Regions from separate parts of the Homo sapiens genome. Here region 1 is linked to region 2. The links come from fine-mapping of genetic effects on gene expression. A gene starts in region 2. The other region holds a variant in brackets. All regions are shown on one strand. Distances are between the middles of the regions. Region 1 has its middle 20 kb from the start of VNN1. Region 2 holds the start of VNN1 (vanin 1).

Region 1 (5,387 bases), 21 kb before region 2:
AAGTAGAAAAAAACCTGGGGCCAGGGGAGAGGGTAGAGTAAGGGACTGAAAGACAGTGAACAACAATGTGGCTACTGGCCATAAGTGCATTAAGAGTTTAGAGAAGGGAATAGCAACAAGACTGGAGAGGCAATGGATTTGAGCTCGAAAGGCAGGATTTGGTCAGAATCATTCCAGGATCAGAGCAACAGTGATCATGTTACAATAAGAAGAGTACTTTTAGCTAAGAACACAAAATATAAAATGGAACCAAGAGAAAGAAGGCTCTTACTGTCTGCTTTGATTCAATATATGCATGGGAAGTATCTTAATTAATGACAGCAATGGTCAAGGGAACTCTAATGGATTACAGTATTGAGGGTTAGGGTGGGAGGAGTGGGATCAGAGAGGCTGATGGAGAGCCTGAAAGAATTCTTATTTATGGGGTCAGGAACTTGATAAGGAGAATGGAGAGGAGGTTTTACAATGAGTTTAGAAATAAAGATTTGGGGAAAGCCAGTAAACTCTTAGATATTTTATTACAGCACCTCTCCTTTAAGATGTGTCCCTTACATATTTAAAAGAAGAATTATATTTATTGTAATACAAAACTTCTGACTCTAAACTTCTTAATCCTACAATAATGCCAGACTGTCATAAGGATTATGTACCAATACAGTGTTTCAAATAACTCATAGCTGCACGCCTTATACACCTAGGAAGCAAAGACATTACTAACAACATTGGGTAATCAAATATTTAACTCAAGTTTCTATTGATTTCAACACACAAAAAAAGCTGGTACATTTCCTGGAACTAGGGGCTGGGAGAATGAAGGGGAATTCCCATATGTTTCCTTTTGATTCTATTCAGAAAGTCAGGTGAACCAAGAAAAGAGTTAGAATTTCAACTTGAAATATGAAAATTATTTTCTTCTCATCCCAGATCAATCCATCTGTTTTACATAGTTTCCCTCTTCTCCTCAGAAATTTTTTTGGAAAAGAACTTATGTCTGATGTCTGATGAAAACAATTTATGTCAGACATAAACTCAGAATTTAGGGCTGAATTTATGTTCATATGTCCTTATTTCCTGAAATGGTATCAGGGCATAAGGACATATGGAAACACTGTGGGGTATCTGGGAGCAGAAATATTTGGATAATGGAAAAGTTTATTGAAACCAAGGGACTTTGAATTATAGAAACAAACCAAACCCAAAATAGACACAAATCTCCATAACTTACAATTTTCCTTAGATCTTAGAAAGAATCTCAAGAGGGAGAAGCAGTGTTAATTGTTCTAGAATCAGAGATTTAAACCTTAAAAAAAATTCTACATTTTAAATTAACTGATATTCAAACAAGGAGATTCAATCCAAAATTGGGCGAGGGAAGTGAATTTAACTAATCAAAAAACATTTACAGAGCTTAGCACAGTATAAAATTCTATAGAAGCAGCAGAGAATTATAATGTGACCCTGCCCTTAAGGGACTTATAAGGATGATATGTTTAAAAAATAAAAGAATTAAAGGAGAACTTAACACTTTTTGAATTATTGATTAGTCTTCATATGGAAGCGGGTTTAAACTGTAGAAGACAGGTAAAGTAAATTGCATCTCAATAACAAGAATGTTCTTAAAATTGGCAATGTTCAAAGGTGGAATAGACTGGCCCATCAGGTAGTAGATTCCGTCATTCAACATTCATTCATATATTGAGCTTTCACCATCTGTCACACATGTGCTGGGGTGATGAGGTTCAACAGTGAGCAGGACACTTCCCTTACCCTCCAGGGGCCACATCCCAGGATACATCATCTCTGTCTAGATGTTTATTGGACATGGATGTTCTGAAAGAAAACAGCAAGTTTCTTTTTAATCTCTTTAAGAAGACAAAACATACATATATAATATTAAGTATTGGTATAATATTTAAATTAAAGGTCAAGACAACAGCAAGGAGTGAGAGACATTCAGCAGCACAGAAAAAAATGCTATAGGAGTTCAGAAATATCACTTAGGACTGGAGTGGATTTGGGAGGACTCTAGGGGGAGCTGGAACTTAGACGGATGGAGAACAAGGGCTTTTCAAATAGAAATGGCCATACAAATATGTAAGTAGAGTGCTCAACAAATTGTTGCTATGATGACTACCTTCCAATATTGGCCCTATTAATAGAAATGTTGGCTTACCAGGAAAATTTTTTTTTATTAGAAAAGACTTCAACTGCCAGTGTGTTTTGGACTGGGGTGAATTCATCTGGTTGGCTCAATCTTTTAGTGTTGACTTGACTCTGAACAATGTCAACAACTGCACTGTACACTTGAATCAATCCAATTACGTCCTGGCTGTCAGTTTTCTTGCACAACATCCTTTCTCAATGCTGTGTTGTGTAATATATGTGCAAGAAAATATAAACAGCTGATTGCCAGGAGGGATTTAATGTAAAGTTTTTCCAGTGAAACAAAA[C/T]GTAAGAATCTGAGTTTGTTTTTCAAAGATCACTAAATTTTAGTTATGATTATATCACATTTTCCAAAATGTGTGGCAGTTTTTGCCCTCCTTGCTCTGAGTGTTGGTGCACTGGACACTTTTATTGCTGCAGTATATGAGCATGCGGTGATATTACCAAACAGAACAGAAACACCTGTTTCAAAAGAAGAAGCTTTGCTCCTGATGAACAAGAACATAGATGTTTTGGAGAAAGCAGTTAAGCTGGCAGCGAAGCAGGTATTACCCTTTTATACTTGTAAAGGAGACTTGCAGTTTGGTCAAAGAGTATTTGGAATTCATGACAAACTTTTTTGCCCCACTTGTTTCGAGCAGGGTGCACATATCATTGTGACCCCAGAAGATGGAATCTATGGTTGGATCTTCACCAGGGAGAGCATTTACCCCTATCTAGAGGATATACCAGACCCTGGAGTGAACTGGATTCCATGTAGAGACCCCTGGAGGTAATATCATATCATTAATTTCTAAACAAAAAGTTGTGATTTGGTAAAACACCAACAGTAAACTCACTGAATTTGACTGGTAATTGTGTTGATAAATAGTCAATCTGTGGCATAGGATGTAGATGCTTTTTTTTCCCTGTAATTTCAACTTTTAGCTTAGATTGAGGGAGTACATGTGCAGGTTTGTTACATGGGCAAATTGCATGACGCTGAGGATTGGGGTACAATGATTGCACCACCCAGCATAGTATACAACAGGAAGGTTTTCAGCCCTTGCCTTCCTCTCTCTCTCTCCCCTCTATTAGTTCCCAGTGTCTATTGCTGTCATCTTTATGGCCATGAGTTCCCAATGCTTAGCTCCCACTTATAAGTGAGAACATGCAGTATTTGGTTTTCTGTTCCTGTGTTAACTTGCTGAGGATAATGTCCTTTGGTGCTGCAAAAGACATGATTTTGTTCCTTCTTGTGGGCACCTAGGTTAATTCCATATCTTTGCTGTTGTGAAAAGTGCTGCGATGAACATACAAGTGCACGAGTCTTTTTGGTAGAATGATTTCCTTTCCTTTGGGTATATACCTAGTAATGGGATTGTGAGTCGAATGGTTGCTGTGTTTTAAGTTCTCTGAGAAATCTCCAAACTGCTTTCCACAATGGCTGAACTAATTTACATTTCCACCAATAGTGTGTAAGTGTTCCCCTTTCTCCATAGCATCTTTTATTATTTGACTTTTTGTTAACAGTCATTCTGACTGGTGTGAGATGATATCTCATTGTGGTTTTGCTTGGCATTTCTCTGATGATAAGTGATGTTGAGTGTTTGTTCACGTGTTTTTTGGCCACTTGTATGTCCTCTTTTGAGAAGTGTCTGTTCATGTCTTTTGCCCACTTTTCAATGGGGTTATTTGTTTTGTTTTTGCTTATTGATTTAAGTTCCTTATGGATTCTGGATAGTAGACCTTTGTTAGATGCCTAGTTTGCAAATATTTTCTCCCATTCTGTAGGTTGTCTATTTACTCTGTTGATAGTTGCTTTTGCTGTACAGAGCTCTTTAGTTAAATTAGGTCCTACATGTCAAGTTTTGTTTTTGTTGCAATTGCTTTTGAGGACTTAGTCATAAATTATTTTCCAAGGTTCATGTCCAGAATGGTGTTTCTTAGATTTTCTTCTAGGATTCTTATAGTTTGAGGTCATACATTTAAATCTTTAATACATCTTGAGTTAATTTTTGTACATGGTGAAAGATAGGGGTCCAGTTTCAATCTTCTGCATATGGCTAGCCAGATATTCCAGCACCTTTTGTTGAATAAGGAGTCCTTTCCCCATACTTATTTTTGTGAACTTTGTTTGAGCTACAGATGGCTGTAGGTGTGCGGCTTTGTTTCTAGGCTCTCTATTCTGTTCTATTGGTCTATGTGTCTGTTTTTCTAACAGTACCATGTTGTTTTGATTACTGTAGCCTTGGGTAATGTGATGCCTCAGGCTTTGTTCTTTTTGTTTAGGATTGGTTTGGCGATTCAGGCTCTTTTTTGGTTCCATATGAATTTTAGAAATTTTGTTTATAAATCTGTGAAAAAATGACATTGGTAGTATGTTAGAAATAGTGTTGAGGCTGGGTGCTGTGGGTCATGCCTATAATCCCAGCACTTTGGGAGGCCAAGGCAGGTGGATTACTTGAGATTAGGAGTTTGAGACCAGCCTGGCCAACGTGGTAAAACCCCATCTCTACTAAAATACAAAAATTAGCTGGGTGTGGTGGTGTGTGCCTGTAATCCCAGCTACTCGGGAGGCTAAGGCATGAGAATTGCTTGAACGATAGAGTGAGACTCTGTCTCAAAAAAAAAAAAAAAAAAAAAAGAAGAAAAGAAATAGTGTTGAATCTGCAGATACTGCTTATGTTTCATAGTGTATATCATCTGGCATATCTCCTGTTTGGTAAATGACTTGAGATACTGATGACTAGTTGGTTATTTGTTGCAATTGTCTTTCAACAATAGTAGGTGTGACCAGGCGTGGTGGCTCACACTTGTAATCCCATCACTGTGGGAAGCCAAAGCAGGAGGACTGCTTGAAGCCAGAAGTTTGAGACCAGCCTGCGCAGCAAAGCCAGACCCTATTTCGGCAAATAAAAAATTTAGCCAGGTGTGGTGGCTCACACCTATAATCCCAGCTACTCGAGAGGCTGAAGCAGGAGGATCACTGGGGCCCAGGAGTTTGAGGCTGCAGTGAGCTATGATTGCACCACTGCACTCCAGCCTGGGTGACAGTAAGACCTTGTCTTAAAAAAATAGTAGGTATAGGCCGGGTGTGGTGGCTCACGCCTGTAATCCCAGAACTTTAGGAGGTGGAGGTGGGCAAATCACCTGAGGTCAGGAGTTCGAGACCAGCCTGGCCAACATGGTGAAACCCCATCTCTACTAAAAAATACAAACATTAGCTGGGTGTGGTTGTGCAT
Region 2 (5,387 bases):
TAAGAAGAACAGACCAGAACTCTCAAGGTTGTCCACCCTGAGCCTCCACCAATTCGTCAATTACAGTTCAAGTGAACCCACGGTACTGGCGCCAGCCGCAGAGGACTCTGCTCGCAGTACACTCTTAACCTCTGTATCTGCCTATCTCTGCAGTTCTGAGGACCGCAGTTTATCCTGTGATCTCAATTCTCTGATGCATCCTAGAAAAGTTGTCGATTTTCATTTGTTTAGCTTTTTTCTTGGTGTGAGCATGGGAAAAATGACTGCCAAGCTCTTTATGAGTTGGACTAGAAACTCCACGGGAGGTTTAATATTTTTAATCTAAGAAGGTCAAGAAGTAATTTTTTAACCTCTTGCCAACTCATCTCAGTTTTAACTTTTATTTCAGTGCTTCCTTTTACAAATTGTTACATAATAATGACATCTTTTTGTGAAATATGTGGTATTCCCACCCACCTGGGCATGGAAAGGCCCTAAGAGGTCAGCAAGCAGTTAGAGAAGCTGGTGTTTACCGGAAACTCAGGAGAACCAGCCAACCACAACCCCTGGGTTACCTTGGCAATTGCAGAATAAATGCATTATAGTTACTAAAGTAAAAAATTAGATATGCCTGTTTGCAGATTGAACTATAAAAATACCATTCAAAGACAAATAGATCTAAAAATAAAATGGAAAAACATAAACACTAATTCTGTAAATATTATACTTAATGCACAACTGAAACAAAATTTGCCAGCTTACTCAATATCAAAATCTATGAACAGTTTTTCTATTTTATATAATTTCCCTCTCCTCTCTCTGGATCTCGCTCCCCAGCTCATTTTTTCTTTTTTTTGCTCTGATTCTTTATACACCTCTGTTGCCTCTGTGATAAGCAGCTTCAAAGATGGTTCCTAATGCTTTATTGGATAGAATACAACAAAAGCGATGAGGTGTTGCTTCCCCAATTACATTACGAAGCATCCGTGGCTTCCATCTCCAGTGGGTTCACTTGCTGTCTGGCTCTAAGGGAATCCAGATACCATAATGCGGGCTGCCCTATGGTGAGGTTTGCATCACTAGGAACTCATGTCTCTGGGCAACAACCAATGAGGTCTTGATCCCTGCCGTCAGCCACATGAGGGAGCTTGGAGCTCGGAAGTGAATCCTCCTGGAGTCAAGCCTTGATATAGCTAGCCCTGGCAGCTGCTTGACTGCAGCCTTGTGAAAGAGACCTTGGGCCAGAGGCACCAGCTAAACTGCCCCTGGATTCCTGACCCAGAGAAAGTGGGAGATGATGTATTTTTGCTTTTTGAAGCTGCTGAATTTGGGGATAATTTGTTATATAGCAATAGAAAATGAGTAACTCTTTTGTATTCCTCTTTGTCCTGGCTTCCCCATTTTGAGGAAAATAAAGTAAATCAAAGTGTAGAGCTGAAATATTCACATGAAAATAATAATAAAGTTTTAAAATTATTTGAATGTCTTGTGTTGACATTCCAAAATATATGAATTCCAAAAATTTATATGTTGAAGTCCTAACTGTCAGTATCTTAGAATGTAACTTTTTTGGAAAAGGGGTCATTTCAGATCTAATTAGTTAAGATGAAGTTATACTGGAGTACAGTGGGCACTAAATCGAATTGGTCCTATGATTGAGTCTCAGTCTTTCAGTGAGCCTGTACCCCTGGGTTTATGACCTTCAGTTGGCTTTTTTCTTCTGCCCTTATTTGGCATAAAAACAAAGCAGGTGGATCACCTGAGGTCAGCAATTTGAGACCAGCCTGCCCAACACGGCGAAACCCTATCTCTACTAAAAATACAAAAAATTAGCCTGGCGTGGTGGCGGGCGCCTGTAATCCCAGCTACTTGGGAGGCTGAGGCAGGAGAATCACATGAACCCGAGAGGCGGAGGTTGCAGTGAGCCGAGATTTCGCCACTGCACTCTAGCCTGGGTGACAAGAGTGAAACTCCATCTCAAACAACAACAACAATAAACAAACAACAACGATGACAAAAAAAGCTAGAGCTGGGATTTTCCCTTTCCCTGTGTTAAAGATTAGAGTGGTGTCCTCACAAAAAGGGAAAACTTGGATACAGGCACACACATGGGGAGAATAGCATATGAAGAGACACAGGGAGAAGGCAGCCATCTATGGGTCAAGGAGAGAGGCCTGGAACACATCTTTCCTTCACCGCCCTCAGGAGGAACCAACTCTGCTGACACCTTCATCTGGGACTCCCACCCTCCAGAACTGCAAAGCAATAAATTTTTTATTTTTTACACCACCCAGTTTATTGTATTTTGTTAGGCAGCCCTAGCGAACTAATGTACATAGAGTTCTTGAGTTAATCTTCACAAATTACTGCAATAAGGTAGGGTCTTTTGTTATGTAACAATGCTATGAAATCATAGCGTTTTCTTAATTAACTTCCGTAGTTTAAGGTACTAAGTTCTGGACACCACGTGTCTTCTTTCTATAAATACCAGGACATGCTCTGTTTTTCAGCACTCATTGGACTTCAGCATGACTACTCAGTTGCCAGCTTACGTGGCAATTTTGCTTTTCTATGTCTCAAGAGCCAGCTGCCAGGACACTTTCACTGCAGCTGTTTATGAGCATGCAGCGATATTGCCCAATGCCACCCTAACACCAGTGTCTCGTGAGGAGGCTTTGGCATTAATGAATCGGAATCTGGACATTTTGGAAGGAGCGATCACATCAGCAGCAGATCAGGTACCATCTCTACCATCTCTCCAGTGTACTGGATTCTATGAGAAAGGAGGGGGTCCTAGGAGACAGGGCCACTGTCAGGGTCAGTTACACTTTTAGATGATATATGTATCAGAGTAGCCAAGAACCTTTATTTTACAGTTAGAATTCTACTTTCCTCTCAAAATTAGAGCAAGGACTTCCCTAAAAGTAAGAACAAAGTTAAGAAAAGAACAATTTGCTCATTATCAAGAAGCAGCAGACCTTTGAGGAACTGGCCATAAATTCAACATCTTTGTTCCCCTTTTCTGGTACAGATGGAGGATGGAGGATAAATGGGTCAGGGACTAGGTGCTATTTTCAGAGTATTAGTGGCCTTCATGTACTCATGTGCTATTAAGGCTTTGCAGGTTTTCGAATAAATTTATAATCTGAAAACAAATTTAAGTTTTCAATTCCTTGCCAGCATGCATTATATACTTCACACTTCATTCTAATTACAAGATAAAAGTATATGTAATGCATTGTGAGTCCTTAAGTTTAGTGAAGGTTTCAGTTTGAAGTTAATCATACAGTATAAATTGTGGTTTACACAAATATTATTTTAAAAGCTATTGATCGATTAGGTGTAGACCAGGAATACATGAAGTGTGATAAAAGTCATGGATAAATGTGTATTACATATATCTATAAATATATATTCTTTTGTGTTGTTGAGTTAAGGTCTCACTCTGTCACCCAGGATGGAGTATAGTGGTGTGATCACGTCTCACTGCAGCCTTGACTTCCCGGGCTCAGGTGATTCTCCCACTACAGTCTCCAGAGTAGCTGGGACCACAGATGCATGCCACCGTGCCCAGCTAAGTTTTGTATTTTTTGTAGAGATGGGATTTTGCCATGTTGCCCACGCTGTACTTGAACTCCTGACCTCAGGTGATCCACCTGCCTTGGGCTCCCAAAGTGCTGGGATTACAGGCATGAGCTACCGTGACTGCCCTATATTCTTATATATACTAATATTTAAAAGGTTATCAGGAGTTCTGATGTTCTTTTTCATCCTTAGTCCAACTATTTCCTTGAAGGTCACAGAGCTTTTTAAGGTGACTCTCTAATTGGAAGGTGCCCAGGTTAGCTCAGGCAGTACTTGTAGGCATGGGACAGTTCAAGTAACCAGTTTGTGGCTCCTCTTTTTCTGAGAAGCAGGAATCATGTTTGCAGGGGAAAGCTAGGGCAGAGGAGGAAATAAACAGAATATTTAAGTTATTAATCAGTCTTGACACAGGCACAGTCATCAGCGAAAGTTCAAGGAGAGGCTTGGTTCCAGGATAAGCTAGGTTTATAGTTAACGACTGCCATAGGAAACAACAATGGCAGGATTAGAAAATTAAAATGCTTGACTAAGCCAGGTGCGGTGGCTCATGTCTGTAATTCCAACACTTTGGGAGGCTGAAGCAGGCGGATCACCTGAGGTTGGGAGTTCAAGACCATCCTGACCAATATGGAGAAACCCCATCTCTACTAAAAATACAAAAATTAGCCAGGCGTGGTGGCAGATGCCTGTGATCCTAGCTACTTATGAGGCTGAGGCGGGAGAATCGCTTGAACCCGGGAGGTGGAGATTGTGGTAAGCCGAGATCTAGCCATTGCACTCCAGCCTGGGCAGCAGAGCGAAACTCCATCTGAAAAAAAAAAAAAAGAGAGAAAAAAAAATGCTTGACTAGAAGCCCAAACCTCACCATTATGTAACATATCCATGCAACAAACCTGCATTTGTACCCTTTGAATCTAAAATTAGAAATAAAGAAAAGAAAAGAAAAAGAAAAAGAAGTGACAGTGCACTGAAAAAAAAGGAAATTAAAATGCTTTGGAAAAGAAAATAAATTATAAAAATATAGAAAACAAAATAAGATTTAAGGGGTGTGGGGGAAGCCCAAATAGTTGTTACTCAGCCACTCAGCTCCTCAGCTCCTCTTGCAGGCCCCCCTTTGGATTAAGTTGCATTTTTAACAGGGTGCGCATATTATTGTGACTCCAGAAGATGCTATTTATGGCTGGAACTTCAACAGGGACTCTCTCTACCCATATTTGGAGGACATCCCAGACCCTGAAGTAAACTGGATCCCCTGTAATAATCGTAACAGGTAAAGAAACAACTTGTGAAAAATTCACTAGTAAACATCAACTTGATTTACCTGGGAAAACTTTGTTGATGATCATTGCATAGATCCATGATCAATTCTTAAGTTTCAGTATAGCTTATTTTTCATCTACTATGGGTATATTTACTGGGAGAGCAAATATGAATTATGAAGTCACAGAAGTCAGAGCTAGAAAGTAGCTTAGAAATCATCACATTCAGTGTGAACATCTCTGGTCTCTGACTCCTCACCAGTGAACAGAAAAATATTTCCCTGTGTAGGTCTGTGATTTGAAAACTATATGAGTAAATGGCAAAAGAGAGTCACATCAGTTTAAGATTAATAGTTTTCCTTTCTCATTGCTAAGATAGCTGATGAGGTTAATGTAGTAAAGTCCTTAAAGTGTAAGCTGATTGTAATCTAAGAGGTGATATGGCAGGATTTTAAGTGGTTTAAGTCAGGTCTCGGCTACAGAGATATTAAGTGTGGTGAAAGCAGCACTATTAATTTTAATGTAAGGAAACCAATATCTTATACACCTAAGAAAATCATGTCG

Evidence for each region.
Region 1: its variant is fine-mapped to the expression of VNN1 in whole blood (INTERVAL, PIP 0.97).

What each region holds. Positions count from the first base shown.
Region 1 is chr6:132,731,801-132,737,187 of GRCh38, reverse strand. It overlaps the pseudogene VNN3P. Among named protein-coding and RNA genes, the nearest start is that of VNN1, 20 kb to the right of the region's middle. The variant C/T (reference allele first, on the strand shown) is at 2,451.
Region 2 is chr6:132,711,156-132,716,542 of GRCh38, reverse strand. It overlaps VNN1 (vanin 1), which reads left to right and starts at 2,488. Exons shown (of 7, transcript NM_004666.3): 1 at 2,488-2,717; 2 at 4,704-4,834. The coding sequence starts at 2,508.